Homo sapiens: one gene and its partners. Each later gene encodes a partner of the first gene's protein in a complex. Each region holds a gene or a part of one and is shown on either strand. Other genes may lie near its edges.

What was found.
Region 2: SMARCB1 (region 1) and DPF1 share a complex: the UniProt entries of both Homo sapiens proteins name them as parts of the neuron-specific chromatin remodeling complex.
Region 3: SMARCB1 (region 1) and ARID1B share a complex: the UniProt entries of both Homo sapiens proteins name them as parts of the neuron-specific chromatin remodeling complex.
Region 4: SMARCB1 (region 1) and PHF10 share a complex: the UniProt entries of both Homo sapiens proteins name them as parts of the neural progenitors-specific chromatin remodeling complex.

Annotation. Positions count from the first base shown.
Region 1 is NC_000022.11:23,829,122-23,836,772, reverse strand, and holds part of SMARCB1 (SWI/SNF-related matrix-associated actin-dependent regulator of chromatin subfamily B member 1), read right to left. Parts: intron 3,202-7,651; coding exon 3,070-3,201; intron 2,633-3,069; coding exon 2,593-2,632; 3' UTR 1,947-2,592; coding exon of another isoform or gene 1,794-1,946; 3' UTR 1-1,793. Other genes in the region: DERL3 (derlin-3), read left to right, coding at 1,794-1,946.
Region 2 is NC_000019.10:38,210,142-38,218,020, reverse strand, and holds the end of DPF1 (zinc finger protein neuro-d4), read left to right. Parts: intron 1-144; coding exon 145-223; intron 224-429; coding exon 430-561; intron 562-1,617; coding exon 1,618-1,668; intron 1,669-1,761; coding exon 1,762-1,881; intron 1,882-4,264; coding exon 4,265-4,377; intron 4,378-5,629; coding exon of another isoform or gene 5,630-5,659; coding exon 5,660-5,741; intron 5,742-5,887; coding exon 5,888-5,958; 3' UTR 5,959-7,015; downstream 7,016-7,879. UniProt on the Homo sapiens protein: May have an important role in developing neurons by participating in regulation of cell survival, possibly as a neurospecific transcription factor. Belongs to the neuron-specific chromatin remodeling complex (nBAF complex).
Region 3 is NC_000006.12:156,781,126-156,789,004, forward strand, and holds part of ARID1B (AT-rich interactive domain-containing protein 1B), read left to right. Parts: intron 1-7,879. UniProt on the Homo sapiens protein: Involved in transcriptional activation and repression of select genes by chromatin remodeling (alteration of DNA-nucleosome topology).
Region 4 is NC_000006.12:169,708,092-169,715,970, forward strand, and holds part of PHF10 (PHD finger protein 10), read right to left. Parts: coding exon 7,864-7,879; intron 7,767-7,863; coding exon 7,617-7,766; intron 6,752-7,616; coding exon 6,642-6,751; intron 4,449-6,641; coding exon 4,295-4,448; intron 2,301-4,294; coding exon 2,145-2,300; intron 1-2,144. UniProt on the Homo sapiens protein: Involved in transcription activity regulation by chromatin remodeling. Belongs to the neural progenitors-specific chromatin remodeling complex (npBAF complex) and is required for the proliferation of neural progenitors.

The DNA of each region.
Region 1 (7,651 bases):
CCATGCAAGGGCCCACCTGAATAAACAGAATGAGCTGCAGTCTCTTGGCCCACAGCACTGGCTTCCCCATCTCACCTGGCCACATCCTTCTATGCCTGCCCCGTCCTCACTCAGTGTGGCCTCTCAGCCCAACTGCAGGTGGTAGGATAGGGGTGCCCACAGAGGGCAAAGAAACTGCCCATGGTTGCCTGGCAGAGCTTTGAGCTCACAGGTTGCCAGGCAGAGCTTTTGAGCTCACAGGTGACAGGCTCAGGGTTCTCATCCTGGCCCCACCAGGGCCTTGGGCAAGTCCTGCCCACCATAGGCCTCTGCTACCTGCCAGTCAGCGGGGAAGTTCACCAGATTTCGGCTGCTGGGGCCAGGACAGGCGTCTCCTAGGTTGTGCCAAACCAGCCTACAGATGTTCCTGCCAGTGGTGCCTTCAGGCTGATGCCAATCTAGCCTCTCCTGTCTCTCATCAGCCACCCTGACAGGTGGGCGTATGCCTCATTTTTCATCTGGTGATGCCAAAGCCCCATGGATTCAGGTGCAGAAGAGGGCCAGGACTAGGTCTTCTGCCCTTTCTATGACCTCAGAGCCTAAGTTTTCACCTTAGCAGAGTTCTGAGACTGGGTGAGGCAGGGACTTCTGGAAGGTTCTGTTCCTGCCCTTTTTAGCTGAGGACGTGTGTGAGCCTTATCCGACCCCTGTGGCTCATTTTTCTCTTCTGACCTGGCAGCTTTCCTTGTTGTTCTAAGCCTGTCCATGTTGTGGTTTATTTCTGGATGCTCAGTGGCACGGGGCCTCCTCCAAAGACAGGTTGTCATTTTCATGGTAACAACACTGTTCTCTGTTGAGTCTGCCCTCCGTGTTGTAGCCAGACCTTGTGGAGATGGCTTTGCGGCGGTGTGAGCTGGCGGTCAGGAGTGAGGGCCCAGCCTTCCCGGCACCTCCCAGCCAGGTGGCCCTGCCCGACCTGTGGGGTGAGGCAGCCAAGGTTCCTTCCATCCCCCCAGTTGTGGAGACACAGGGCTGCCTCACCCTTTCATTGCCGAGGTTCCTACCTCATGGACAGAACAAACACCTCAGCAATGAAACCTGTTCATGTCTAAGAGCAGCTGGGCTGGGAATCTTCCCCTTTGTTCAAGGCCTTCCAGTAAGGCCCAGCTGTCCCCTTGCTGTGCATGGGGCTCTGGGGAGTTCCACTCTTTGATGGAGGGCAGAGGCCCTGAGTGCAAACTCCCTGGGAAGAGTCCCATGCTAACATGTGCTCAAAGGAGCCCTCCTCTCACATCTCAGCGACCAAGAACCCCAATCCCTAATCAGAGCTCTGCCTCTGCCCCACATGGGGCCCTACCCCACTTCCAGGGAGCACAGCAGCCTCTGACCCTAGCCCTGCCCTGGCAGCATGGGACCTGCCAACAGCTGAGGGTGGCAGCAGTCTGTGCTGGGATCTGTGCCCGGATCTGTGCCCATTCTCTTCAGTAAGGCTGGAGCTGCGAGCCAGTTTGCTGCCCTCCCAGATCCTGTGTCCATTCTGAAGAATGGGGACACCTCCCTATTACAGATGAGAACAGAGGGGACATGAACTCCTTGGAGGCAGGGCTGGGAAGGGACCCTGGGCTGTGTCTCCTCCCTGTACCGTGTCAACTCCAAGAGCTGGCACCAGGCCGGGAGGGCTATTCCCATATTCCTCACAGCTGGCTTGTAAGGCAGGAGCTGGCCCAGGCCACAGCACCTGCTGGGGTGGGAAAGGGCCCCAGCTGACCTGGCTATGGGTGCCACTGGAGCTAGAACAGCCCTCCTGCACCCAGGCTGGCGACAGCCCAGCAGTGCCCACACAGGACTGGGCCCTCCGCAGGGGACTTCAGAGCAGCAAGGCCCCAGCTGGCAGTAGCCTGACCATCTGGACACAGCAGAGCCAGGGCGGCCCAGGGACGGCAGGAGAGCTCGCGGCACCTTCCTGAGGCCAAGCAAGGGGAGCAGGGTTAGGGCTGTTCCTGAAAGGCAGAGAGCCTCTTGCCCTGAGCCTCACAGCTACTCTTCTCAGCTCTCTGGGTCTGGAAGGAGAACAGGCTGAGGGGAGCTGAGAGGAGCTGAGGTGCTACCCGGAGCCCCATTCACCCCCACCTGCCCACTTGGGAATCTGAGGCAGAGGAGGGTGAGGCCTGTGTGCCAACCTTGTTCACATACCACCTTCGTCCCCCCAGGCCCCGGCCCCACTCCTGGCTCTCATTATTTTTATGTTAAAACTTTGAAGAAATTGAACATGACCTGTTGAAGAAATTGAACATGACCTGTTGCCTTTTATTTAAAAACTGTTACTAGCCCTGCCTGGGGCTCCTATACAAAAACAAAACACAACCTAAAATAAGGTTTCTTCCTGACCCCAGAGACTGGGGAGGGGTAGGGAGGGTGGGGTGGGGGGCAGGACTGGGGCTCAACAAATGGAATGTGTGCCGGGAAGGGCCACCTGGAAGCCCCCACTCCACCCCCACCCGATCCTCAGGATGGCGCTGGGCTGTCCCCTCGCCTCTGTCCTTGCCAGAAGATGGAGGAGAGGCGGCCCAATCTTCTGAGATGCTCCGTGGGAGCCGTGTGCTGATGGGCTGGTTACCAGGCCGGGGCCGTGTTGGCAAGACGCCTCATCCGCCTGGAAGAGGAGTGGGGAGGGCAATGAGTCGGGGCCAGCTCCCAGCCTGGGCGCTGCCCTTCCCAAGGCTCTACAGGGCAGCCAAGTGTAGGGGTGGGAACAGAGGCAGGATGTGGGCCCCCAGCAGGGTCAGACCCAGCCTTCTCTCAGCCTCGCCTGTCTGCCACTCAGGCCCTGCTCATCACTCCAGGGACCCCAAAACCTGGATCTGGGCTGTGGTCAGACCCTCAGCCTGAGGAATTATGTTTGTTCCATGCAGGGAAACATACCCTGGCGTTTGGATGGGGCCTTATCACCCAGAAGCCTGCCTGCCTCTAGCAGCACTAGAGGTACTCTGTCTCAGAGACCATGGGAGACTGGGAAAGGCAATGGCCCTGCCTCTGCCTGGAAAGCCAGGTGCCTGTGGGCAGAGCCCAGGACCACAGGGCCAGGGGTACCTCGTGTTCCTGTCCTGGTCGCGGATCTTCTTCTCCATCTCAGCGTCTGTCAGAGTCTCCAGCAGTGGGCACCACTGGTCCGCATCGCCCGTGTTCCGGATGGCAATCTCCACTGTGGGCAGAGGGTTCTCGCTACGAGGAGGGGAGGCAGTGAGAGGAATGACTTTTCCAGCTATAGATGGAGAATCCTCAGAAAGCTTTGGCCCCTGTCTGTGCCCTGCTCCTCCCAGCAGCACTGCTGGCACCCAGTGGATGCTCCAGTCACCTGAACCTCAAGGGAGCTGCTGGAGGCGCCAGGGCCTTTCCATAACAAGTGTTGTCGCCATGACCCCATGGGCTTCCCTTCAAAGTGAACTTTCAACAGGGCTTTTGTGCCCAGCGTCTCTCTGTCTCTGAGATGGAGGAAGGGGCCACTGGCTGTGGAGGTGGTCCTTGACAGGACAGCACGGGCTGGACCATGCTGATGCCACAGTGCCAGTCAGGAGGTGGAACCTATAGGGGCAGGAGGACTGTCTGCTCCACTCAGTGTCCAGAGCCAGGGCCCACTGATCAGGGAAAGGGGATGGATGGCGAATGGGAGCAAAGGAGTCTCCCAGAAGTCCCCAGCCCCCCACTACTGAGGGCCACTGCACAGCCTGTTCCTGCATGTTCCACACACTTGCCCCTCAGCCCACCTCCTGGCCGAACAAAACCCCCGAGAGGCTGGTCTGTGCTTAGGATCAGACAGCTGTCTGGCAGGGAGCTGGACAGAAGCCGTATCCCCGGACCACACTCTGCCCTGGGTCTCACAAGGACCACCCAAATCTGCCCCGAGGTACCTTCCTCTTGCCAAAAGGACACAGCAGAGGAAGGGGGCAGCAAGGGCAGAGGCTAAACAGGCATGGGGTGGGCACAGGAGTGCTGGGGAGGTGGGAGGGTGGCTGGCTGCCGCCTCTCTGGGCTTTGATTTGCAAGTCTGTGACAGGACACTAAGGAGACCACAGCTGTGGATGCCACAGGGCCCGTGTGCCTCCCACATGCAGTGGTCCCGTCACCCCCACCTCTGAGAGCAGCTTTGGGTGCTGACAGTGTTTCCCAGTTGAGTGACACCAGACCCCTGGCTTGGCAGAAGGCCTCAGCCTGAGGTCCTAACCATGACTCTCCCACTTCCCCTCCCCTCTCTGTGGTCCTTTCCTTTCTCCTCCACTTGGGCACCTCCACTTGGCTCTCCCTAGGCTCAGTCCCCTGGGAGAAGGACACCCTGCCAGCCTGCGGCCCTGAAAAACACCATGAGCTCTGGGAGAAGCAAGGGCAGGCCGGACTCGGGGGAGGCGCCAGGTGGACACTGATAGAGAGGACAGGTCCCTGCAAACCTCATCTGGAATATGGAAACATTTATTGCTGTGAAGGGCTTTGGAAGGATGACTGTTATTAAAGCAGCCAAAACATCTCCACTGAGGGAGCTTCCTAGGGGCCAGGGACCTTCTCACAGCCTCCCTGTAGTGGGTGGCTCAAGGTTGTGGGACCAGCCTGCTTGCAGAGCGAGTCCCGGCTCTGCACATCCACACCAGTGAGCACACACCCAGCTCCAGTAGCCGTGAGCCCGTTCCAGGTTGGGCTCAGTGCTGCTCTCCTCAGCCTGGGGTCTCAGGGACTGTGGGCACAGCGCAGGGCACTGGCTGCAGCTGGCTCTCCCTGCAGCAGGCCTGACCCCTCACAGCTGAAGCTCAGCCCACCAGGTCCATGCTCATGAGTCGCAGAAGCTCAAGCTCGTACTGGTGACGCAGAGGCAGGGCCAGAGGCAATGTCGGCACCCCCACCCTCTGGGGCTGACCCATCCTCAGCAGCTCCTGACAGCTGGTCCCTGGCCAGCACCGGGTGGTTTAGCAGTCTAGGGACCACCCTAGCCTCAGACCCCAAACATCATTCCTCACCGTGAGGGCTCCCAGCAGCCTTCCTTGGAGGGCAGACGTGAAAGGTACCAAGCCCACAACGAGGGGAGCAAAACATGTTTTCCTCTTAAACAAGAGCTGGCGAGTGGGTCCCAGAGGGTCCTTTGTTTACCTCCCCTTGATGCTGGGAATATTCCACTCCAGTGGGTTTGTTCTAAAGTAAGAAATGCTCGCACCAACCATGTAAGAACGGGCCTAGAGCCAGCACTAGCCTGCCTTGGGTTTTGGGGGCATGTGGGCATGGAGATGCTGTCCTGAGTTCCAAAGAGTGCTGGGGACCCTGGGAGCCACCCTGCTCCCCATTCCTTCCAGGGAATTCTGGTTCACGGGCTTCGAAGCCGCCAGGGACCCCAGACCTTCCTACCACCCAAAGTGTCCAGGTGGGGACAAAGATACCCAGGCAGGGGATGCTCACGTCTGAGGGACAGAGGGAGCCAGGACTGATGCCGGTCGAGTATCTTGAGGTTTACTTTCAATGTGATCTCACTTTCATGACCTCATGTGATGCAACACACAAGTATTATCCCCAAGTTACAAATGACAAAATACAGACTTCAAGGGAAAATGACCTGTCCACAGCCACTCGACCAGGAAGGGGAGATGCCAAAACTTGGTGTCACCCTTATGTTTGCAATTCACACCTCCGAGGCCGCCAGGAGCCTCAAATGATTTTTAGAAGGGTGCCAAGTCCACTCAATGGAGGAAGAGCAGTTTTCAACATGGTGCTGGGGCAACATGACTCTGGATTGACAATGGATTCTTAGATATGAAACCAAAAGCACTAGCAACAAACTAAAACAATATATAAATTACAGGCCTGGTGCAGTGGCTCACACCTGTAATCCCAGCACTTTGGGAGGCCGAGGCGGGCGGATTATGAGGTCAAGAGATGGAGACCATCCTGGCCAACATGGTGAAACCCCGTCTCTACTAAAAACAAAAAATTAGCTGGGTGTGGTGGCAGGTGCCTGTAGTCCCAGCTACTTGGGAGGCTGAGGTAGGAGAATCACTTGAACTCAGGAGGCGGAGGATGCAGTGAGCCAAGATCACAGCACTACACTCCAGCCTGGTGACACAGCGAGACTGTCTCAAAAAAAAAAAAAAAAAAAAAAAAAAAAAAAAAGATAAATTGGACTACATCAAAATGAAAACTTTTGTGCTTCAAAGAACACTATCAAGAAAGTGAAAAGGCAATCCTCCAAATGAGAGAAAATATCTTCAAATCATGTATCTATCTGATGAGGGACTTCTATGTAGAATATATAAAGAACAATTACAACTCAACAATAAAATAAAACCCAATTAAGAAACTAGCAAAGCACTTTCTCCAAAGAAGATACACAAACAGCCAGAAATACATGCAAAGATGCTCAATATCATCAGTCATTAGAAAAATGCAAATCAAAACCACAATTACTTCACACCTCCTCAGACGGCTACGATCAAAAAGAGAACAGCAAATGCCAGCAGGATCCAGAGAAACGGGAATCGCACGCTTCTGGTGGGAATGCAAAATGGTGCAGCCACTTTGGAAAACAGTCTAGAAATTCTTCAAAATGCTAACCACTGAGTTGTCACGTGACCCAGCAATTCTACTCCTGGGTATATATCCAAGAAAATTGAAAACAGATGTTCACACAAAAACTCATACACAAATGTTCTCAGCAGCAGTACTCACAATAGCTGAAAAATGGAAACAACCCAAAAGTCAATCTGCTGATGAATGAATAAAATGTGGTATATCCATGCAATGAGATAATATTCAATCATAAAAAAGAATGAAGTCCTGATAAAAGATGCTACAACATGGATAATCCTTGAAAACATTATGCTAACAAGCCAGTCATAAAAGACCACATATTAGATGGTTCCATTTCTATGAAGTACCCGGAATAGGCAAATCTACAGATAGAAAGTGGATGAGTGGACACCTAGGGCTGAGAGACAGCGGGGAGGAACGGGACTGCCTGCAGTGGGGTGATGAAAAAGTCCTAAAATTGACAGTGGTGATAGTTACACAGCTCTCTGCATATATCAAAAACCGCTGCACTATATACTCTAAATGTGTGAATTGTATGGTTTATGAATTATATCACAATAAAGCTGTTAAAAAAACAAACAAAACCTGACATCAGGCCAGGGCTGGCGGGCAGAGCTTCGGAAGGAACCTGAGGCTTACGCTCAACCAGCCCAACGTGTACCTGACATACCCCAGCCTAATTCCTGATGCTGTGCCATCAGAGGGACACTGCCTCTCTGTCCCTCATGCAGGCCCAGCTACCAAGCTCCCTGACCCTTAGTCTCTTTTCATCCCCACCCTGTACGTGTAGGACTGCTGGTGTGCAGAGCCCCCTGGGGCAGATACCCTGCCTGATCCACAGGGCCCACCTTCCTTCTCAAGCACCTGCCTGTCCCTGGTCTCCTCTCGGTCCTTCCTGCTGCAGTCCCCCATCAGCACCTGCCCTGGCCATCCTCACCCCAGGTTCTATGCCCCCAACTGCCCTTCCTCATGCCCACAGCCTCCGGTGCTTTCTGTGGCCATGGCACACTGATAGTCATGCACATGAATCTGTTTCCTCTGCCAGACAGGGCACTGTCTCCTCCCGTCCCTGGCCAGGAACACAGGGCTGGCCCAGGGGAGGTGCCAGTAA
Region 2 (7,879 bases), on another chromosome or scaffold:
CATGTTGGCCAAGGTGGTCTCGATCTCTTGACCTCGTGATCCGCCTGCCTCGGCCTCCCAAAGTGCTGGGATTACAGGTGTGAGCCACCACGCCTGGCCTGTTTTCTCACTTTCTTGGCCCCTCACTCCTGACTCTCCCCACAGGCATATGGCATCGGGGGTCTCCGGAAACGCCAGGACACCGCTTCCCTGGAGGACCGAGACAAGCCGTATGTCTGTGATAGTGAGTCCTTCTGAAGAGGGGGAAAGGCAGAGAGAGGGGTGCCCAGAGACTCCCCACCTCGTGGCCCTCTCCCTCCCGTTCCAGACCCGGGTTGGGAGGCTGCTCAGGTCTCTGGCTGAGGGGGGAGGTGTGATCCTGGAGGCCAGGGTGGAGGCGGCAGGGGCCCGGAGGGGCTGACAGGCCCTCCTGGCTCGCTCGCTCCCCAGTCTGTGGGAAACGGTATAAGAACCGGCCGGGGCTCAGCTACCACTACACCCACACCCACCTGGCCGAGGAGGAGGGGGAGGAGAACGCCGAACGCCACGCCCTGCCCTTCCACCGGAAAAACAACCATAAACGTGAGCTGGCAGGCCAGGTGGGGGTGGCCAGGGGCCCTGGGAGTGGGGAAGAGGAGCCCAGCTGGGGGTGGGGGTGGGGGGGCATTAGACATTTCTGGAAAATCTCCAGCTCAGCCGTTCCCTCCCCCCACCGACCATGGGGATGCTGGCTCCGGGGTTGCCATGGCAACCAACCATCGCTCCTTCGCTCCTGGCCGGGCGTAATATTTCTGGGTCTGATTTATTGTTTCAATTAGAGCTTGGGGAGGGGGGGTGATAGATGGCTCCCCTCCCGCCCTGCCTTCCCTTTCTCCTTTCTCTGCTAAGCTTTGGTCAAGGGGCAGGGTCTGTGGCCTGGGAGCCCTTGGCTTCCGCCCTTGCCAATCCCATGCCAGTTCTGACAGCTGAAGGATGGGGGAGGGGAGGAGGGTTTGGGAGAGGCAGTAGGGAGACACTGTCTTCCCACCTATCTCTCAGAGGCAGAGGCTGAGTGTCTTCACCCCTGGCCACTACACACCCACGCACCTCAGTGTTCGGAGTTTTTCTTCCGAGTGTCTGTTTCCATACCAGATCTTGGCTGGGGTACTCGCTGAATTTGTTAGATACAAATTACTGAGGGTGCAGTTGGGAGTGGCTGGCTGGGAGACATGTATGTGAGAAGGGAGGCAGGGAGCCCTTCCTCAAGCTGTCTACCAAGTTTTGACCCAATAAAGAGGACATGTCAGTTGTCTCAAGGAGTTGGGAATCCTGGCTGGGTGCAGTGGCTCACGCTTATAATCCCGCCACTTTGTGGCAGTGGCCGAGGTGGGAGGATCACTGGAGGCCAGGAGTTGGAGACCAGCCTGGGCAACATACCAAGACCCTGCCTTTATTTTTAATTGAAAAAAAAATTTAAAAAGGCAGAGTTGGGAGTCCCGATGAGAACTGTTTTCACCTCTCCCCACAGCTTGGGGTAGCTACTCACTCTTCCCAGCTCCCCACGCCTGGACTAAGAGGTCCATCCTTGGGGCTGAGGCTGGGGGCAGGGTGGAGCCTTGCCTGTGGTGAGAGTCCCTCTCTCTGTCCCCCCTACCCCAGAGTTTTACAAAGAATTGGCCTGGGTCCCTGAGGCACAAAGGAAACACACAGGTACGGATGCCTCCTTCTGCTCCTAAAGTCTGCAGCCACCTTTGCGGGGTGCCCTTGCCTGCCCCGTGCCAATGCCTGTCTGCTGTCTTGCAGCCAAGAAGGCGCCCGACGGCACTGTCATCCCCAACGGCTACTGTGACTTCTGCCTGGGGGGCTCCAAGAAGACGGGGTGTCCCGAGGACCTCATCTCCTGTGCGGACTGTGGGCGATCAGGTGATGCTCCCCACCTGAGGTTTCTGGGGGCCGGGTGCAGAGGACATTCAGGAGTGCAGACCTGGAGGGAGGGAGGCAAGGCGGTGAGGACCGAGGGGACCCGGAGCATGTAGGGGATACTGTGGATAACCAGAGCTAGCGAGGCTGATGCAACTGCTGAGGATTGTGGGAATTGGGTCGGATCAGTGAGGCTTTAGGGATAATGGGATGTGGCTCTCATGGCACTGTGGGTAGCTGCCTGTGCTTAGCATGGCATCAAGAGTAGTGAGAGGCCAGGTGTGGTGGCTCACGCCTGTAATCCCAGCACTTTGGGAGGCAGAGGTGGGAGGATCACTTGAGGCCAGGAATTTGAGACCAGCCTGAGCAACATAGCAAGACCCCCATCTCTACAAAAAATTTAAAAATTATCCAGGTGTGTTGTTGTGCACCTGTAATCCCAGCAACTCAGGAGGCTGAGGCCGGAGGCTCCCTTGAGCCCAGGAGTTTGAGACCAGCCTGGGCAACATAGTGAGATCCCATCTATATATAAAAAAAGTTAGCTGGGCATGGTGTTGCACCCCATTAGCCCCAGCTACTCGGGAGGCTGAAGTGGGAGGCTCGCTTGAGCCCAGAAGGTTTTTGTTTTGTTTTGTTTTGTTTTGTTTTTTGAGACAGAGTCTCCCTCTGTCACCCAGGCTGGAGTGCATTGGCATGATCTTGGCTCACTGCAACCTCCGCCTCCTGGGTTCAAGTGATTCTTGTGCTTCAGCCTCCCGAGTAGCTAGGATTACAGGCACCCGCCACCATGCCTGGCTAATTTTTAATATTTTTAGTAGAGACGGGGGTTTCACCATGTTGGCCAGGCTGGTCTCAAACTCCTGACCTCAGGTGATCTGCCTGCCTTGACCTCCCAAAGTGCTGGGATTACAGGCGTGAGCCACCGCAGCACCCAGCCCCTTGAATCTGGGAGTTTTTGACTAGCCAGGGCAACATAATGAGAGCCCATCTATTAAAAAAAAAATAGGCCAGGCTGGGTGATGTGGCTCACATCTGTAATCCCAGCACTTTGGGAGGCTGGGGCGAGCAGATCATGAGGTCAAGAGATCAAGACCATCCTGGCCAACATGGTGAAACCCCATCTCTATAAAAATACAAAATTTAGCTGGGTGTGGTGGTGCGTGCCTGTAGTTCCAGCTACTCCGGAGGCTGAGGCAGGAGAATCGCTTGAACCCGGGGCTCAGAGGTTGCCATGAGCCAAGATTGCACCACTGCACTCCACCCTGGGTATCAGAGCAAGACTCCGTCTCAAAAAAAAAAAAAAAAAAAAAAGGCTGGGCATAGTTTCGCACCCCATTAGTCCCAGCTACTCGGGAGGCTGAGGTGGGAGGATCGCTGGAGCCTGGGAGGTCAAGGCTGCAGAGTGCACTGTGATGGTGCCACTATGCTGCAGCCTGGGCAACAGAGTGAGACCTTGTTTCAAAAACCAAAACAAGACAAAAGGAGTAGCAAGAGACAGGGGCCAAGGCATGGCAGGTAGTGGGCTGTGTGGTGTGAGTGACGGACACCACCACCTGGGCACCGGTAGCAGGATGAGCTCGCCATAGAGTTGTGGTTAACAGAATGTGGTTTCCCATGGTGGGCTTGTGGGCAATATAGACTCTGGTTGCCTCAGCACAGTAGGTCATGAATTGTGGTTGTCGTGGCATCATGGGTAGTGAAATATGGTTGTCATGGCAACTCAGTATAATGGAATGTAGTTGTGATGGCACCGGGGCCGTGGTTGCAGGGGGCGGGCGCCATGGGTCGTGGCTGCAGGTAGCGGCTGCGGGTGTCTCTGCAGCGGGGCTGTGGAATGACTAAGCCTGGCGCTGCACAGTGCTGTGATGTGAGTAACAGTTTTGTTGCTGGGGCACCAAGTGGAATGGACTTCAGTTGCATGAAACCGAAGTGTGGGGACCCCGTTGTGGAAGGTGGTTGCCATGGCATTGTGGCTGGGAGAGTGTGGTTGCCACGTTGCTGTGGTTAACAGGACCCCTGGCCGTTCTGCTGTGGGTAATGGAAAGTGGCTGTCTCAGCACGGTGGTTAACAGAATGTGGTTGCCACGGTGTTGTGGGTGGTAGAAAGTGGTTGGCACAGCACTGTGGGTAATGGAATGCGGTTGCCATGGCGTTCTGGGGAGCAGAGTGTGGTTGCCATGGTGGTTGTGGTAGGAGACTGTGGTGGCCGGGGGACTGCTGCCGGCCACGTGGTTGCTGGGCAGGTGTGGGGTCAGGCTGTGGATCCCGGCAGCTCATCCTGGCGTCATGAGCCAGGGGTAGGGGCTGAGCTATGGCTCCCCTGCCGGTCAGTGCCCACCAGGGGCACGGTGACCTCCTAACTGCACCCCTGCCCCTTGGCCCCCAGGACACCCCTCGTGTTTACAATTCACGGTGAACATGACGGCAGCCGTGCGGACCTACCGCTGGCAGTGCATCGAGTGCAAATCCTGCAGCCTGTGCGGAACCTCCGAGAACGACGTGAGTGCCGCCCGCCCCCCGCGTGCCCTGCTGCCCGCCCCGCCTGGCACGTCCACCTCTGCCCCTTAAGCCTAAAGCCTGTGCCTGAGCCTTCCCTGGTGAACACCAGTCCCCTGTGTTATCATTATGCCGGTGTCCATAAATCGAACCTGGCCCTTTTTCCTCTTCATCTCTCTGGATCCTCCCAACCACCCTCTGAAGCAGGTGGTCTTGTTTCCACTTCACAGGGAAGAAACTGAGCTCAGAGAGGGAAAGAGACCTGCCCAGGGTCAGCCAGCTAGGGAAATGGCAGAGCTGAGATTTAAAGCCATGACCACTGCTGGCAGAGCTGGTATCAGATCATCTTAGGGTTGTTTAAAGCCTTCCACAGGCGGAGCGCGGTGGCTCACGCCTGGAATCCCAGCACTCTGGGAGGCTGAGGTGGGTGGACCACCTGAGATCAGGAGTTTGAGACCAGCCTGGCCAACGTGGTGAAACCCCATCTCTACAAAAATACAGAAATTAGCTGGGTGCCTGTAATCCCAGCTACTCGGGAGGCTGAGGCAGGAGAATGGCTTGAGCCCAGGAGGTGGAGATTGCAGTGAGCCGAGATGGCGCCACTGCACACTCCAGCCTGGGTGACAGAGCGAGATTCCGTCTCAAAAAAAAAAAAAACAAACAAAAACAAAAGCCATGACCGTTTCTGGCAGAGCTGCTATCAGATCATCTTGGTGTCATTTAAACTTCCCACAGACCGGGAGCGGTGGCCCACCTGTGTAATCCCAGCACTTTGGGAGGCTGAGGAATTTTGAGCCCAGGAGTTCTAGACCAGACCAGCCTGGGCAACATAGTGAGACTCCCGTCTCAAAAAAAAAAAAAAAAAAAAAAAAGTCGTGCATGGTGGCGCACACCTGTAGTCCCAGCTCAGGAGACTGAGGCAGGAGAATCACTTGAGCCCCAAGGAGTGTGAGGCTGCAGTGAGCTGTGACTGCACCACCGCACTTCCAGCCTGGGCAACAGGGTAGGACCCTGTCTCTAAAAATATAAAATAATAATAATAATAAGCCTTCCACAGAGCCTTATAAAACCCCCACTATAAATCGCAAAGGGACTGTCCTGAGGGATATGTGTTTGGCTAAGCAGTGTTGCGCACACATTTCCTGCTGCAAAGACCTTCTCAGAACCTTTCTCGGAAGGCCTCACCTCCCCCAGCCCCCTTGACCTAGCCCCTGCCCCAGCCCCCCACCCCCGTTTCTGGTGCCCGTGCCCCCAGGGTGCCAGCTGGGCGGGTCTCACCCCCCAGGACCAGCTGCTGTTTTGTGATGACTGCGATCGGGGTTACCACATGTACTGCCTGAGTCCCCCCATGGCGGAGCCCCCGGAAGGTGAGAGGAGAGGTGGGCATCCCATGGGGCGGGTGGGTGGGAACGCCATCTCCTGGTTGTGGAAGACTGTGTGTCCTCGGGGTGGGAAGGGGCTGGGGCAGCCCTCCCGGACCCGGGCCTGACTTCAGCTTCGGCTGCCCCCGCAGGGAGCTGGAGCTGTCACCTCTGTCTCCGGCACCTGAAGGAAAAGGCTTCTGCTTACATCACCCTCACCTAGGCCGGCTCGGCTCGCCGCGACTCTGGGGTGGTGCTCGCCTACCTGCCTCTCCGAGCTCCTCAATTCTCCCCCACCCTGAACATCCCGCAGGGGGAGGGGGAGAGGGGGAAGCCGAGAGGGGGCTGGGCCACCCCCTCCCCTCTGTGCAAGTGGAATGTCTGCCCTGTGGGTGGGTGGGCCCGGCCAGGGCCTCTCCCTCCCTCCCTCCCTCTCTGTCCCTTGGCAAATGGACACCAGGGGCTTCTCCCCTCAAAGCCATACCCCGCCTCTGGGCGGGCATGGGGGGTGGTGGGTGCCAGCCAGGGGCATGGACAGAGCCTTTTTCTAAAGAAAAAGACAAAAAGTTAAAAAAAAAAAAAAGAAGAAAAGAAAAGAAGTTAATATATACAAAGAGTCCTCCAAGGCCTGGCTGGGTGGAGGGGCGCTGCTGAGAGTGTCCACCGGGCACCCGCCTCTGCCGGCCCCCCGCCGGGCGCCCCAACCCCAATTTCTGGAGCTGCAGCCGTCCCGCGCCCCACCCAAGGTGGGCGCCTTCCCCTCTTGTGCCCAGGGCGGTGGGCGTGGTGTCCACCCGCCCCTCCTGGTGCCCACGGTGGATACTGCATGATGTGAACCTTGGTTTTGAACTCTGTTCCTGCCCCTCCCCGACCGCCCCAGCCTGTGCCCGCCCCGTGCCTGCCGTGGCTGGTGGGTGGCGGTGGTGGGGCCGGGTGGGCCCCCGCCCAGCGCCTGCTGGAATGAGAAGCACAGACTCCGCCACGGACTCCTTTTCTCTCCCTCCTCCCGCCCCGCCAGGCCTGGCGGCCCCCGCCCCCCTCGCTGGCCATTTTGGGGGAGTGAGGGGGCGTGGTTGTTTCTTGTGGTTGTGTGTGTTTGTTGTTCGGGTTTTAAAAAAGGGAAACTGAGACTGCAGGTGGGGGAGGTGGTGGGTTTTGGGGGGATGTCCCCTAATCCAGGAGTGCCCCCTCACTTGTCACCGAGTCTCCTCTATTGCCTGCCTCTGCTGTGAATTAACTTGTTCTGTGTATTAAACTGGGCCTGACCCCTCTGCCCACGACTGCCTCGTTCTCCCGTCTGGTTTGGGGCATCACCAAGAAGGAGGACCGGGGGTCGACGGGCCTTGTTGGGGGTGAGGCGACCAGCCAGCCCCTACCTCCATCCACCTCCTTCTTCCCCTGCCTGCACCCTGCCTCTCCCCGGCTTTGTCCCAGCTCCGCCCTGCTTTGCCAGAAAGGAGGAGAAGGGGGATGGGGTGGAGGGGCTCCCGCCCAGCCAGCTGTGGTTGCCCTGGCAACGGGCTGCTGCAGCTGCAGCGGGCGCAGCCGGGAGGGAGGCGGGAGCCGGGCCGGGGGAAGGGAAGGGCTGGGAAGAGGACGGTGGGTTGGCCCCTCCTGAGGCTGGGGTGGGGAACGGGGGTGTCAGGAGGTGTCATCCCAGACCCAGACATCTCCAGGGGGCTCCGTGTCCTGGATGTGGGGCAAATCAGCGGTGGCGATAAGGTGGAAAGAGAGGCGCTAAGGGAGGGCAGGAGGGTATCTAGACACGGGCACTGGGAGAGAGACTGAGATGTGGGCGACGGGTGGGGGGCGGGAGTGAGGAGTGAGGGAACTAGGACACAGATCAGGAGAGAGAAAGAGACGAGGACAGTCACACAGTTATTGAGAGAATCAGAAAAAAGAGCAAGAGGGTGCAGAAGGGAGAGAGACAGGAGGAAGGACCAGGAGAGAGGAAGGGAGCAGGGGTGAGAAGGAGGTTTAACGGCAGAGAGGGAATAACTAATAAAAAATAGCTGACATGCTGGGAGAGACGGGAGGAGGAGAAGGAGGACGGTGATTGGGGAAGAGCAGCAGCAGATTTAGGGAGAGGTCCTCCAAGAGGGGAGGCAGAGAAGGAGGTAACATCTATCAGGAGAGGGAAGAGT
Region 3 (7,879 bases), on another chromosome or scaffold:
GGTTAGAATTGACATATTTAAAAAACGAAATGAGGAAACCACATATTTGTGCAGATAACAATAATTAAAAGGGGAAAAATGAGATATTCCTGTGAAATACTAAGAATCATTTCATATTTGCTTTTGATGTGGAGAATACAGAAATGCCCCATAATCTTTTTTTTTTCTTCATTGTTTTGTTAGATTAGGTAATTTGAGCCTTGTTTGAACTGCTTACACGATGAATTAGGGAAACTATATTCTAAGCAAGTTGTGCTGGGTGTCTTTTTTTCCAAATAATTTTTCTTTCATGTTAATGCTATGAAAGTTTAAAAAATCCTAATCTGTTAGAGAGGAACAACAGTCGTTGTATGTATATTTTTATGTAACTCATTTATTTTAGGAAGAGGTATTTTAACAATAATCATACCTTAGAGACTTGTCAGAGTGAAGGAAGGGCTGAATTTAACAAATAATCTTGTGAATCCTAGGCTGAACACTGCTGTCCACTGCTTTCAGATCTTTAGTTATTGGAGTTTTGCTTTTAAGGATAATAGATTTTTCTATTCTTAATAGAAAACTTGTGATTTCAACTTGTTTTTGATTCACACGAGGAAAAACATTATAGAGAAGAATCATGGAAATAAACCCACGTAATTAATTTTAAAAAGGTTTGCTTTGTCAGCCTGCTTTTAAAGGAGCAGTTTAAAATTCACATCTTCGTAAACTAGAGACGAATGAAGTTAGAGGCAGATGTAGGACCATGTTACTTTAGAGTATTTTTTTCTTAATGGTACCAATCATTTTCAGTATTTTGTTTTCTTGTAATGAGAATGAATCCATTATGTCCCTATGACCCTTGGGAATAGGCTTTTTTTTTTTTTTTTTTTTTTTTTTTTTGTTGAGGTTGGGGGAAATATGGACATGCGACCTAGATTCAGGAATTTCTTTTAAGTACCTTACCGTGTAACATGTGGAATGTGTCTTTTTTACAATCCTTTTTTTTCTTTTCTTTTTGGAAGTTAGTATTATTTAGTATTAGTTGTTGTAATTATACTAAGAAACAGTCATTTGTCCAAAATATTAAATTACTGCCTGACTGTAGGTCATGAAATGCTATTAAATCACATTGTTAAATGATGAAATATTTTGGCTTTTAATATGTTTTTAGTTTCATTTTTGATTTCAGGAAATAGTTTCTATTGGGTGGCAAATGTTTTCGTAATTGGGACAAAACGTGTATATATTATAGGAGAAGGGTCTTTTTAAAAAGTGAAATAAGCCATTTGACGATTCAGTTTATTACTAGATTTTTGTAAGATGAGTATTCAGATGGAGCAGTCTCAAAAGGAATATTGAGGTCTACTCACGCACATAGGTTTTATGATGTCCACATTTCTACTGAATTCCATAAATGCAGTTTTAACTTTTAGTTTTATAAAACGTAGTACAATGTATTAAGAAAAGGGCCTTATTTACCATTAGAAGAAAAGTGATTAGCTAGCATGCGAAGCAGGAAGCTACAAACTGGTTCCTGATTACCTTAAAATGTGTGTGAGATACATTATTTGATAAAATCACTCCCAGTTAAATTTTAGGGTGTCTGATATTTTAAATCTTGTAAACAAATTTTTGTGGCCTAAATTTATATATTTGCCAAAGTATGGATGGCTGTGTATAGTTAGAAAAGGTGGACTTAGTAACTGTGGCTAATGGAAAGGGCCTATCATTTAAAAAACAGGAAAAGAAAATATAACAAATGTCTGCAGTTTTGTTTTCTGAATCATCTGGGATGAAATTATGCATGGCTTAAAATCGTTTTCATTGGGAGTCCTGATTTTTGTGGTACATACTTTTGACAATATTTTGGTAGTTTTTTTTTTTTAGTGGTAGCCACTCTTTAAGACAGCTATCACTTAGGTTTATGTTTATATTAATACTACATCAGTAAGTATATGCTAGGGACTAGCACATCCTTACCTTGAATCTATAATGAGGAACCTTAACCCCTCTTTGCTTTGGCTCTGCTTGTCTATATTTAGTCATGAATTTTTGGCAAGGCTTTTTATACTTGTTCCATTTTTCTCAATGTCATAGTGTATCAGAAGTGTGTTATGGATGTGGAAATAATGCAGATCACACTTGGACACTTTTACTAATATACTTAACCTCTGAATGTCATTTTCCTTTACTGAAATTGAAGAAAATAACGTCTTTATTCTGATATTTAAAAAAAAAAAACATTAATTCTGATTTGAGAACTGATTTTAAAAATGTAAGACAATGTAGAGGAAGACTTAATATAAGCTCATTTGATCGTTTTATTAGACACAGATACCTTTTAAAGAGAATAGGTGTAATAGAATGCGGTTGAGTTTTCAGTTCTATTTTTTATTAATAGACTTTATTTCTTTATGATTCTGGGCAGGGTGTATCTATCTAAAAAGATGACTTCTGATGTAATAGGAACACTTGCTTTCCTAGGATAAATTCCAATATCACAGGCAAACCGAAAAGATGATCATTTCATTTATTTAACCCTACCCTTTCCTAGGAGATGAGTGATTTGATGAACATTTGTTAGGGTTCCATGAAATTTTCTACTCCGTTTGGAGACTCACTGGGGATGTAAATTTTGGATGTGCTGGCCTAGGACTCTGTATTCGCTTTTTTGCCGGTGTCCTCAATCTGGAGGCTTTTCTTGCAGCTCTACACTGGACTGACACTGCTCAGCTCATGGGGTTGTGTGCTTTGATCCATGTGGGTGGAAAAGGGACTGATATTTCACTCGTGTCACTTTTGTTTTGGAGTGTATGTGTAGATTTGTAAATTTGAGATTGATATTTATGTTTGATAGAAGTGTGGTGTGTTGCATAAAATGACAGATTTATGGAGGCTGAAAATATTAATAAAACTTAATTCCATTTTTTTTTTGCAATATTTAGGTTTTCCAGTTGGATGTTATAAAATTTTTATGACATTTTACACTGCTGTTATTACTCAAGGGGCCGTATCCACCTCTTAGGCCTTTTTGGGATTGGGTGGTTTTGGTTGCATGCCTTTTCGGAGGTGCCCTTTCCTGAATGGGAGGGAGGTTTTTGCAGGTTCTCTGTGGATATGTAAAGTAGTGCCGCACGCTTGCTGTGTGTGCTTGCTTGAGGCTGAGGAATCCCAAACCCTGTTCCCTGTCGTGTCCGGGAGAGGCACCAGGCAAAACTGTTCCTCTACCAAGAATATATTTCTGTATCATAGATGTAGAACTATTATAAATATCTTTTCTCTAGCTTGGAGGCTATTTGAATGAGACTCAATGGCCCTTTTGGTTTAATTGGGTAATTGAGTGAATTAATTCTGATCTAAAAACTTGGTGTACTTTAGCAACTTTTTCTTCAGGAAATTTGGTAAAGATAAAATGACTTAGGTATCAGTCATTACCTGAGTGTCCTAAGTATTCATTTGTTTTTCCTTATACTGACATCTGAATGAATGGAATGATAGACATATACTATATAGTTTTAATTAGCAATTCACTTTGAGTGAGTGAATTTTTTCAGAGTAGAATATGTGTTTCCACTGTAAGTTTTCACTAAATATGTTCTATTTTCAAAATCTTTGACTTGGAGTAATTCTAAGAAAATTCTTTCCTTACATTTAGTTATTTGTTTTTCTTTTTGAGACAGGGTCTCACTTTGCCACCCAGGTTGGAGTGCAGTGGCGCGATCTTGGCTCACTGTGGCCTTGACCTCCCAGATTCAAGTGATTCTCCTGCCTCAGCCCCGCAAGCAGCTGGGACTACAGGTGCACGCCATCACACCTGGCTAATTTTTGTATTTTTCGTAGAGATGGGGTTTCGCCATGTTGCCCAGGCTGGTCTCGAACTCCTGACCTCAAGTGATCCACCCTCCTCGGCCTCCCAAAGTGCTGGGATTACAGATGTGAACCATCCTGCCAGGCAAGATTTACTTACTTAAATAGGATCCAGTAGGCAGTTTTCAAACCCACATCTGTATGGATCAATGCCAAGAATATTAGAAGGCTACTGAGTTTGACAGATGAACTAATGATGAAATTAACTTGTTTCTTGGATGAGATTTATTACCAGGCACCAGACTAAAGCCCTAAAATCTTAAGCCTATCTGGTTTATGAATAGCTACTCTTATTTCCATTATTAAAATCAGGTAGATGGCAGCAGAATCTGGAGGAGATTCACCCTCTGTTGACCATCTTCTGTAAGGTGCACTTCTCAGTGTCTTCCTGGGCCTTGATGAATGATGAGCTGGAGAACTAGACCAGAAGCCATTCCTTATCAGGTGACTCTGGAAGGGAAGCCATATTTGATGAAATCCAGAAGAAATCCTGGACCATAATGCTACATTTTTTCTTTTTTTGTAATGGGATGCTAAAAAATTAAATATATGGTTTTTTTTTTAAATAGAGGTAAGCTATACGTACATAACATACAACTTACCATTTGAACCATTTTTAGGCATACATTCCAGTGGCATTAAGTACATTGTCATTGTTGTGTGGCTGTCACCATCATCATCTATCCCCAGAACTTTTCCTTCTCAAACTGAAATAAAAATATTTTTCTCTTTCTTTTAAAATTGTTAGCTGCTAATGTGTATTGTAAGTAAAATAATCTTGTTTTTGTAACCATTAATCTTATCACTTCATAGTTTGTGAGTAAATTCTTCCGCAGACATTCCATCAGGATGCTAATGGTTTTTTTGTTTGTTTGTTTTTGTTTTTTATTAGTACATTACTTCCTCTCAATTCTAACTTTGGGGTAATCCTCATAGAGTTTGAGGATCTCTTTGGAGATGTGTATTACAAAGGTTAGTAGTTTCACTGCCAGTTATGTTATTAAAATTTTGAAAAGCAGCTTTTTGGAACCTTTCTAAAGTTTAAAGGTTGAGGGTATTTGTTGAGAGAAACCTGGGACTTGGTTAGATAATAGGGTGTGGAAATGAACTGTTACCATTCTCACTTTTCCCTTGCTTTTCTTCCCTCACCTTTTGCATTTGTAGTCTCTTAAAAATTATTAATTTTATTTTCCCACTATTAGTGAAAATCATTTATAGTGATATTTTTTTCTATTCTTTCTGTGTTTGAAGTTTCTGGGCATCTCACCCCTACCAACCCAGAGCAAACCCAGAGTCTAGGTGGTGCCATGTCCTTTTCCATAGTGTTCTCTGCCACCAAATTTGTGCCTCCCCCTCATGTTTTTACTTTTTAGTCCTCTGCAAAACTTCAGAAATTCTTTGTATGTGGAAAAATTACTAAATTAAGATGATTGACCTTTTAGAATTACATTTTAAAGGCAGCTGTGAAGGGAGACTTCTAGATCCTGCCTAGTCTCATGAACAGGCGTCTTTGGTTTGTGTAAGGTATTGGAATTGTACTGGAATTGCTGCTGATGCTGATAGGTAGTCACATCTTTGTAAGATCAGTTATGTACTTTAACACCAGCTTCCACAGAGAGGAAATGAACTGTTACTTAAGAGCTTGTACTGGGAAGCAATAGTTATTTCTTTAAGGTGTAAACATTTAGCATTTGTGTATGCAGTGAGGTATATGTTAGATAAATATCTACTCCAGACAGTCAATTGGCAAATATTTATTGAGCTCCCACTTTCTTAATCAGCCCTGTGCCAGAGACAGACAATAGCTGGGGTCTGGGGATTGCTGCTGTTGGTGTGCGGATCATGCAGAGATACTGCTAACGCTTGCTCCCTCCATACCTGGATCGTGGTATTGCTGACATCATTGACTTAGAACTGGCTCATTTAAACAAATTGCAGATAGCAACCATGTGGGTCAGCAGTCTATTTGGCCTGCTTTTTTTTTTTTTTTTTCCGGTGGGGCAGTATATTTTGGCAAAACAAAATCTGGTCAACAACAATTGTAGGTTGTTGTGATATAGTTGATGTGATCTAGTGACTCTTTTCCATTTCTACCAATCAGTTACTGGCTTTGTGCCAGAGCGAAATATAGATTCACTACCGAGAATAATAACTAAAAGAAGGAAAATATAATCACTTTCAAATTTATATAGAATGGTCCTTTTTCTTTTTCTCAGTTTTCTACATTACATAGATTCTTGGAAAAAAAGTTAAAACAGTCTGTTCAGATTTAGGAAGATACTTGGATTGCTGGGGTATTTTTGGTAACTGTTTAGATAATGTATGCTGGCTGAGGAGTAAATTCAGCTACTGCTTCTGGGTCCTGAAATAAACCTTTCAGAAAGCGAGGCATTGATGATTAGTGGAGGCAGTTCCAGAATTCTTAGTATCTACTGTTTCTTTTTGTGATGAGCATCTTAGAAGTTAAACCACTCACCATATTTCATAGCCTTATATTGAAATGATTGTTAATTCTAAAATTCATTTAGAAGCTGGCGTCTAATTTGTGAAATCTTGAGAACCACCTTTTAAGATTCAGTGACCATATATCAAGCTACACACCCATTTTAATGCCCTTTAAATTTTCTGTTACCACTGGTATATTTTATAATAAATTCACTCTAACTAATGAATTATAAATGACCTTGGAAATAGGAATGTGGAACATTGCTACTGCTGAGCAAGTATCTTTCTGAAGAAGCAGACATAATTCCGAGGGGACTGGCATGTTTGCTGTGTATTAGTTTATTTTGGTGATTCTGAGGATTTGTGAGCGAATAAGCTTCTATGATGAGGCATCCTGACACAATGGTAAGATCATGGGCTTGGAGCTGGTCAGACCTTAGCTCATTTGGAGGCCTCAGCACCCATTTTCTCTGCACTCCAGCAGGGGGTCAGTTTCCTTACCTGGAATGTTGGCTGCTGGGCAGGGTTGTTGAAAACCTTCACTGAGGTCATGGATGTCTATCTGTGGCATCTGTATGTGGCCCCTCTCTTCTCTGCCTACCTGCCTTCCCATGTGGGGCTTGTTTTCTCATTCTCTGCCTGGTCCTGCTGTACTTCGGGGTGTGGCTGACTCAGGACAAGCCCTTGCTGGCATCAATTAGGTGATGCTCAGCCCCTCCCAGCTCCAAAAATCTGTGCTGCTTTGAATTTTTAAACAAATAGTGCCTAATCAGCTATGCACCGCTGAACAGCTTATTAAACCACACTAGATCCCAGACATATTCTGTGAATATAAACTGAGACCTGTGCAAATACATAGATTTTTGCATTCCACTGTAGTTTCCCTTACAGAATGTGGTTTTGTACTGATTGGGACTCTTGCTCAGCAGTTGTATAAATTGGTTTTGGTTTACCCACAGAGCCTACGGCTGATGCCATTGGCCCCAAGCTGCTACCCCATTCAATATCCCATCCCTAATATTAATTAGTGGTCTCTTCTCTGGCCAACAATCATTCCTCTGTTATACTTCCTAAACCTTCCCACTTTGATGATCTGCAAAAAATGACTGGCTTTTTAGGAGAATTACTTTTTGCAAAGGAACGAAGTTGCAAAAATTTAAAAGTAGGCTTCTTGGAGATTTTGGGTGCTAGACTTTGGTCTCTCATTAGCTAAGTAACTTGCTTCTGTGTTTGCTTCATCTTCACTGAATATATGATTTAGACTTGATCCTTAGCAAAATTATAATTTACTATGCATGGAGGGTTAGGGCTGCTCTTAAATAGTCAAAACAGGAATGTCAAATCTAAGAGTACCGGGGTCCTCCCTCAAATATATAAAGAGCAATTTTTTTTAAATGCTGAGATTTATAAAACTATCAGGGACAAAATGTAATTCTATTATGAACAAATACTTACTGAGCACCACTTGGTGCTTAAGATACACAGAGTAAAGATGACATATGATCCTTAATTTTCCCAGGTGTATTATCATAGACTCCTGGTGTTTTACAAAGTGGAAATTAAAGTGAATGGCTACAGTTTTCTTCTG
Region 4 (7,879 bases), on another chromosome or scaffold:
CAAATAACTGCAACATCATCAGAGTATCACTATTGACAAGAAAACTGAAATACTCATCCTAATAGCTCTCAGCATCTCAAATAAAAGGCTCACAGTACACTTACTTTTCTACTTGAAAAACAGCCAAAGATAAGACTTTCATGGTAGCAATAATATAGTATAGATTTTAATTATTGTATTTATAGGCCGGAATCCTAATAATTATGCTTTAAATTTCAGGTTAATGTAACCTAAACAATACTGTTCTATGAATTAAGGGCAAGCACTAGTGAATCTTATTAAGCAAAGCATCAGATACATTACTTCCTTGAATCTCGTACTTTTTATATATAAACTATGACCTTTAGCTTGAAGTACCCTAATATTTAGGCACATCTTGGTTTATTAATACTTTTTATAAAGAGGTTAACTTTTAATAAGCATGTTCACATTAATGTATGATGACTAGATACTGGTTGTTCCCATCTTTGAAATACCTGAAACATTTTTAGGTACTAAAAATGTTCACAGATTATGTAAAATATAAATTTTGCATATCCTACTTGAGTACTATTAAGTTCAGTTAATCCATATGATTTCTTGTATACTAAATCAATGATAGTGTTGAATAGCTGATTTCCAGCCTGTATTAAAACATCTATTTCAATATTCTCTCTTTTTAACCCATGATCAATCAAGCTTACTGTTGCAAAGATCTACTTAGCACTCAAGAGTTAACAGGACACTGTGCTTTGAGCGGCCACTTCCATTTAAAGCTCTTAGCAGACCAGTAGAACACACTCATTCATGTATACTGCTTCTGAAATTTCATCTTTGGAGCTCACTTGCTTTCAGTTATTAAGCATTAATTTATATAAAGAAATTACATAAGCTATATATGTAAAAACAAGTACAAAAATCACATAGCTGCAGCCTATTGCAGCCACCCTTGGAAGCCAACCCTTGCTGAATTAAGCTTAAAATTTGCTTGCTATAGGCTACAAAAAAAAAAAAGAATTTTTAAGTTAATTACATAAAAGCATTTCCTAATAAAATATGAAATACACTAACTTAATGTCGCTTTTTTTACTTGAAGAAAGGTAAATGAACATGTTAGAACGTGTTCTAGTTAGTTTGAGGGAAAGGTGACTTACTTCAGCCTGTTCTTGTGAATTATTTACCACAATCACAGTTCTGACATACAAGGTGTTTAACAATTTCACTTGGCAAAACTTTCTCATCAGCTTACTCTAAAATTTTCCTTCAATACACCTTCATAAGTGCAATAAAAGCATGTTCTAATACATTTCAGACCAAAAGAATCAAAAGGTAGTCTATTTTACTACCACCATCCCAAATATGAAACTGTACAGCTAATTCTTCCTTTTATGATATTCTTAAATCCCTATATGCAAATAAGGCTACTCATCTCTCACCTCACCTTTTCTTCAGAAGAAAAGGGAGGGGCAGACAGAGGGAGGAAAAGTTCAAAATATAATAATAGTTGCTGACAACCTACTCCTTTACTCTGAGGATAATCAGATCAACAAGTTAACAAGTATGTTTTAATTCTTGCCATAGAATCATATAGGCTCTTTACCAAGGTTATGCTAAAAATCACTACAATGTAAGTAACAGGTTTTATTATTTTCTATCCCAGAGTTAGCTAAATTTAGCATATGGATCAAATAATCCTTAGATTAAACCCAGATCTTTCTTAATGAAAGGCACTAAAAAAAATGCAACTTAGTCTAACAGTATATCCACTCATACTTTATAGCTCAGCAGCTTTAGCTACACTAAATGCTGGGGCATTTAAAATGCCAAATAATTATGATCTTTACTCCAAGGAAAGAAAATATAAACTTCTGCCTATGAAATAATGTTTTAAAAACCCATACTTGCCTGGTTATTCTTTCAAAGAAAAAAAAAGACTTATAAATTGTACATATACAGAAAACAGAAGGTAAACCATAGCCAAAAGTGACAGAAAAGCCACCAAGGAAATAAAGCAAAAAAGAAAGCAGCGGACAAAGGGCACACCATAGAAGAACAGCTAGTGAGGTACAGCAGGCAGAAGCTCCACAATCGTGAAAGTCAAGTTAAAATATTTCAGGGAGAGGCTGGTCAGTAAAGAAGCTGAGTCAGGGGCTTTTTTCTTCTACCTTGTACCCAGGAACTGACTTGGACAGTACAGAACGTTTGGGACCATCTTTTCTTGGAGTGGCAGCTTTGTCTTTTGATTTCTGTCTTCCCTGGAAAGAGTCCTCCTGGCTGTCAGGAGGGCTTTCCCCTTCAGATACATTGCCAGAGGAGCTGTCCTGGAGTTTAAAAGGCAAAAACAAAGATTCTTTGGAATTAAGACAAATTTGAGTCTGGATTTTGAAAACTATGGAAAATATTCAAAGAAAGTTTTAAAGCTTTATCATTTTAAAAATAAAAAGATCATTCTAAATGTAAGAAAGCTTTTTCCAGTGGAGACTAAAGTAAGTTATGTTAAAAATCATTCCTCCTTCTTCTAAGTATATTATATAAAACTGATTCCATATCAGTGCCTTCATCAACTTTGTTTTCTGACATAAGTCACAAAAACACAATTATCCGCTTCAGCTACTATTACGGCACACAGCTTCAACATCATTTTCCGTCACAAGGGAACATATTTGTTTCATACAAAAATATATTGTTACAAATAAGTGTGGGTATTTTCACTGAGTACTAAAAGTCATTAAGAAGGTCCTTCAGGAAAAATGAAGCGCTGCAGTTAGGAAAAAAAAAAAAAAGTCCTTCAAGTACACATTTGTGTTTTCACAATGTTAAACTATGCAGAGCCAATCCCTCAACTATCTACAACAGGATCTGAAATATTTTATATATTCAAGGTTTAAGACCTCAGTATCTGATCATTTAATTCTTCATTTTATAATTTAAAATGTTCTAATTAGAACTTTCATATAAATTACAAAAATTATAAATTAAAAAATTAGGTTATCTAGAGCCTCCCTGATAAACACACACTGACTAGAAACATGAATGTATCTACTTTATCTTTTTTCTGGGTGTCCACTTATATACATAAAGATACCGAGACTCACACATTACCCCCTACCTCATTGTGCCCTCATTTTTTAAAATACAAAACTGGATTACACTGTGTGTGTATGCATATGTGTATTTTGGTATTTTTTAAAAGCATTATGTGCATTTTCTCACAATCATTAAATATTCTTTGAACTGCATTTCTATCCTATAAATGTAATATAATATTACCCACTGTGGGCATTAAAATTTATTTGTAACTTCCAGCATAAAAAATACTGTCAACACTCAAATGGACCTTTTTTTCTAATTAAAATTTTTCAGCATCTGATTAAATCCTTAGGATAAATTCTACTAGTGGATTTGCTAGGTCAAATACTATGGAACTTAAATTGGTAAGACTGTCAAAATGCTTTCCCATAATGTTGGATTAGTTTACACTTTTCCTAGCAGTATGAAAGGAAGTCAGCTTCATCACCCTTTGCATGCCATAGCTCCCCTTTTAGCAACATGACAGGAGAAAAGTTGTGTCACCACTTTAATACTTGAACAGTATCTTATTTTGCATAATATGTATTATTAAAGATGTTTTAGAAGCTGTTGGTGACAAGGAAATAATGTCCATTCAATGGTAGCACAATCTCACATTTACATTGGCTTCAATGAAAAGTTTGAAATAGCCAGTTACTTAAAACACAATGCTAAAGAAATTCAAAGCCCTATGTCATCACTGGGATCAAAGCCCCAAACCATCATTGGGATTTTATTCTCCTTCAGGTGCACAGAATACACCAACTGCCCACTGTCTTGCAGGTGCATTTTGCTACAAAAAAAAAAGTCATACAGGAAAACCCAACAAATTGTACAACATATTACTAAACATAATATTTTCCTATAGGAAGCATAAGATTAAGCAAATGCACTCCCCTCAACTAAGAAAACTACATTTCTGTGTCAAGAGATCAAATTCTGTTTTGTTCAATATTTTAAGCTAAAGAGACAGCAAGTTGAATAAATGATTGTAAGCTAATTTTCCATACCCTTGCCTAAACTGCTCATGGTAACTACAAAGGGGCGATTTTAAGCATAAAGCTTACCAAAGGCCATTCACTGCTTGTTTTTATCAAAACATACTATAAGTAACTTTTATTGATGAATACTTTCTGGAAATTACATGCAACCATCCTTTTTCAAGGAGAGGGTGATGACAGAAATTCAATGTAACAAAAATTCAAAGAGAAAGGAAATGCTTCCTACTAGAGAGAAATGTTCTCACCGAAGTGCCTTTATTTTTCCGTTTCTCATCACCTCGACCATCTTCGCCATCATCTGAATCACCATCACTGTCTAGAGCAGGGAGCTCAGGATCCAGAGGGGGCTCATACAGGGCTGTGTTTAATGGCAGATACCGCAGCTCATCTGGTGAGTACCTGAAGTTCAGAGAGTTTATTTTTGGTTTCCCTTTATTATTAAATATAAACAGACTCATCTTTGACCTATGAAGATAGCCTTAAACTTCTTGAGTAACCCCGAAGACTTTTGAAAACTAGAGTACTAATTTTTCATTTTTGTCATCAAGTAGGGTTAATAAAAAGCCTGAACATCTTTTCACTAGACTTATGTAAAATATGCATTTGATTCTTACTAAGAGATAATGTGCCTCCCCTCTTTGCCCTCAACCCAAAAAAAGAAAAAAGTAAATAAAATGTCAGCAGCCCCAAGTCTGGCTGCCAGCTCACATCCACCTCGACCACTGTCCCAGGTCTTTGCTACTTCTCTGTGCTGTCACTCCATTTGTAAAACAGACCTAATAATAGCATCTACCGCATACAGTTGATATATATGCATTAACTTATTTAATGCATACATATCACACCAGTGCATGGTACATGATATTACTTAAAATAATAACATAGAAAGCAAAATTTTTAGTAACCAATTATTGTAAACAAATTTGGGAAGCATGTATTCTAACAAATTTAATCATCTATTTTGTCTGAAACTATATTGGCAATCTCTTCCCCTAGGTCAGACAGCACTGCTTCGTGCCACCTCCATTCTCACCCTCAGTAGCCCCCATTCAGGAGGCAACCCTAGATGAAGACTTCTCCAACTAAGACAACACACCAAAAAGCAAAGGGGTTAATATACTTGCATATGACTTTTAATAATTTGCTGATGCCAAAATAAAATTTTTAAAAATTAAAGGCCGGGTGCAGTGGCTCACGCCTATAATCCCAGCATTTCGGGAGGCCAAGGTGGGCAGATCACCTGAGGTCAGGAGTTCGAGACCAGCCTGGCCAACATGGTGAAACCCCGTCTCTACTAAATATACAGAAAATTAGCTGGGCAAGGTGGCGGGCACCTGTAATCCCAGCTACTCGGGAAGCTGAAGCAGGAGAATCACTTGAACCAGGAGGCAGAGGTTGCAGTGAGCCGAGATCGCGCCACTGCACTCCAGCCTGGGCGACAGCGTGAGACTCCATCTCAAAAAAAAAAAAAAAAAATTTGAAGAAAAACTTTTAAAAAATTGCTGCTCATGATTTAAATTTGAATTTAAAAAATCTTTTTTTATTTAAAAAATTTCTGCCCAAGATTTGACTTTCAAATGGTGTGAGTTATGATACTATATTTTAAATTCTATTCTCTAAAAAATAGTATATTATGAAAAACATACGGTTCCAGAGTAAGGCTTAAGGTTGAAGTAAAAGCTGAGACTTTAAAACAAAATGGGCTGGGCACAGTGGCTCACACCTTTAATCCGAGTACTTTGGGAGGCCAAGGTGGGCGGATCACTAGGTCAAGAGATCAAGAGCATCCTGGCCAACATGGTAAAACCCACCTCTACCAAAAATACAAATAATTAGCTGGGCGTGGTGGCATGTGCCTGCAGTCCCGCTATTTGGGAGGCTGAGGCAGGAGAATCACTTGAACACAGGAGGCAGAGGTTGCAGTGAGCCGAAATCACACTACCACACTCCATCCTGGGTACAGAGCAAGACTGTCTCAAAAAAAAAAAAAAGAATCTGTTAGCCCTGTTTTTTTCAGTTACATTTAATTTGGGAATAGGAGATAAGTAACATTTAGGGTCCATATTGGAGCAGCAGCCAGGCCAGGTCAGCAATGTGGCTGGGGCACCCAGTTGCCCATGCCTGCCCCTCTCCGCTCCTTCTCTCATCTTCTCTGCAGTAAAAGTCAGTGTTTCTCAAACTCTAACCTGCACATGAATCACACAGACATCTGTTAAAATGCAGACTCTGAGTCATAGGTCTAGAGTTGGGCCTGAGATTCTGCATTTCCAACAAGCTTCTGAGCAATAACAGTGCTTTGGACCACGGAACATACCCTGAGCAGTGAGGTGCTACAGAACCCCCAGCATCTGTCTCTAACAAACCCAAACAGAATGGGCAGAGACAGAGGCATCTAGACTTCACCAGCATATATTCAAATTCTGACTACAGGGTATTGTTTACCACAGAACCAGAGAAGAATAGCAACACAAATCCTATACGATATCTTACGGTGATATCTATAGACCCCAAAATTGTTAGGAGGCAAGTACAAAAGGCTCTGAAACCCCTTACCAATAGCCGATACCAACTGTAACTAAAACTACTAAATACCTCTTATAATATTCCTGGAACTGTCCGGGGATGAGAGCCACTGGGTAAGAACTGACCTTTGTTCGCTCTGTTGGCAAAACTTTGTACTTCCCTTGAGGTACCTGGATAACCTACGTTAACATAAAGAGAAACACAAAACTGATTCCATGCTAAGAATCAAGGCTTTAGGAAGAGTCCCCACGTGCTCACCACTGCACGCCCACTTCCCCCTCGAAAAGCTAAAATTTTAGGAGATATCAGGAGCTATAACCTAAGAGGACAGTTGGTGCTTTCAGTTCTATATATTATTGTTTTAAAGGCCTATTCTCCTGAGGAATGGCAGTGGATCTCTTGCTCACTACTTAACAGCAGAGTGATCTGGGTAGCTTATACGACCTCTCTGTAGCTCAATTTCTTTATGAAATGGAAGTAATCCTAGTTCCAACCTCACATGGTTACTATGAGAATTAACATGCAAATCTCTTAAAAACTCTTGGGACGCACAGCAAGTATGATATGTAGCTATTATTAGTCTCATTTAGAATTATTAACCGTAAAGCAAAAGACATCTCACAAAAAAATGTAAATTGAGTATTATTAAGCACACCATTAAAAATAACATCTCAACTTCTGAGGAAAAAAAGAACACGCAGGTGTCAGCATGGCCAACATGGTAAAACACCATCTCTACTAAAAATACAAAAAATTAGCTGGGTGTGGTGGCAGGCGCCTGTAATCCCAGCTAATGGGGAGGCTGAGGCAGAAGCATCGCCTGAACCCGGGAGGCGGAGGTTGCAGTGAGCCGAGATCATGCCACTGCACTCCATCCTGGGCTACACAGACTCTGCCACAAAAAACAAAACAAAACAAACAAACAAACAAAAAAAACACACACACATAGGTGGTACAAAAAATAACGATAAAGGGGGTGATGGGCACTCTGCAATAACAAGTAATAAACTAAGTTCAGGGGGTACTAAATTTAAGTTATCCTACATGTGTCTGCAAGTCAAAATAAGCTCTTCTTTCTTCCATGCGTTCCCGGTTTAAGTTGCTATTAAATTCTGCTGCTTTTTTGGCAGCTTTCTTAATATACTCAGGCACTTTACTGGCTTCAACTTTCTGAGTATTCTGTTGTTGCATTTGCTGGAAAAAAAAAATACAGTTGGAAGTCACATATAACTTTCTAAAATGTCATTTTCCCCAACCCAAATAAAAAATGCCAGTCACCTCAATTACTTACGGAATACTCTTTATAA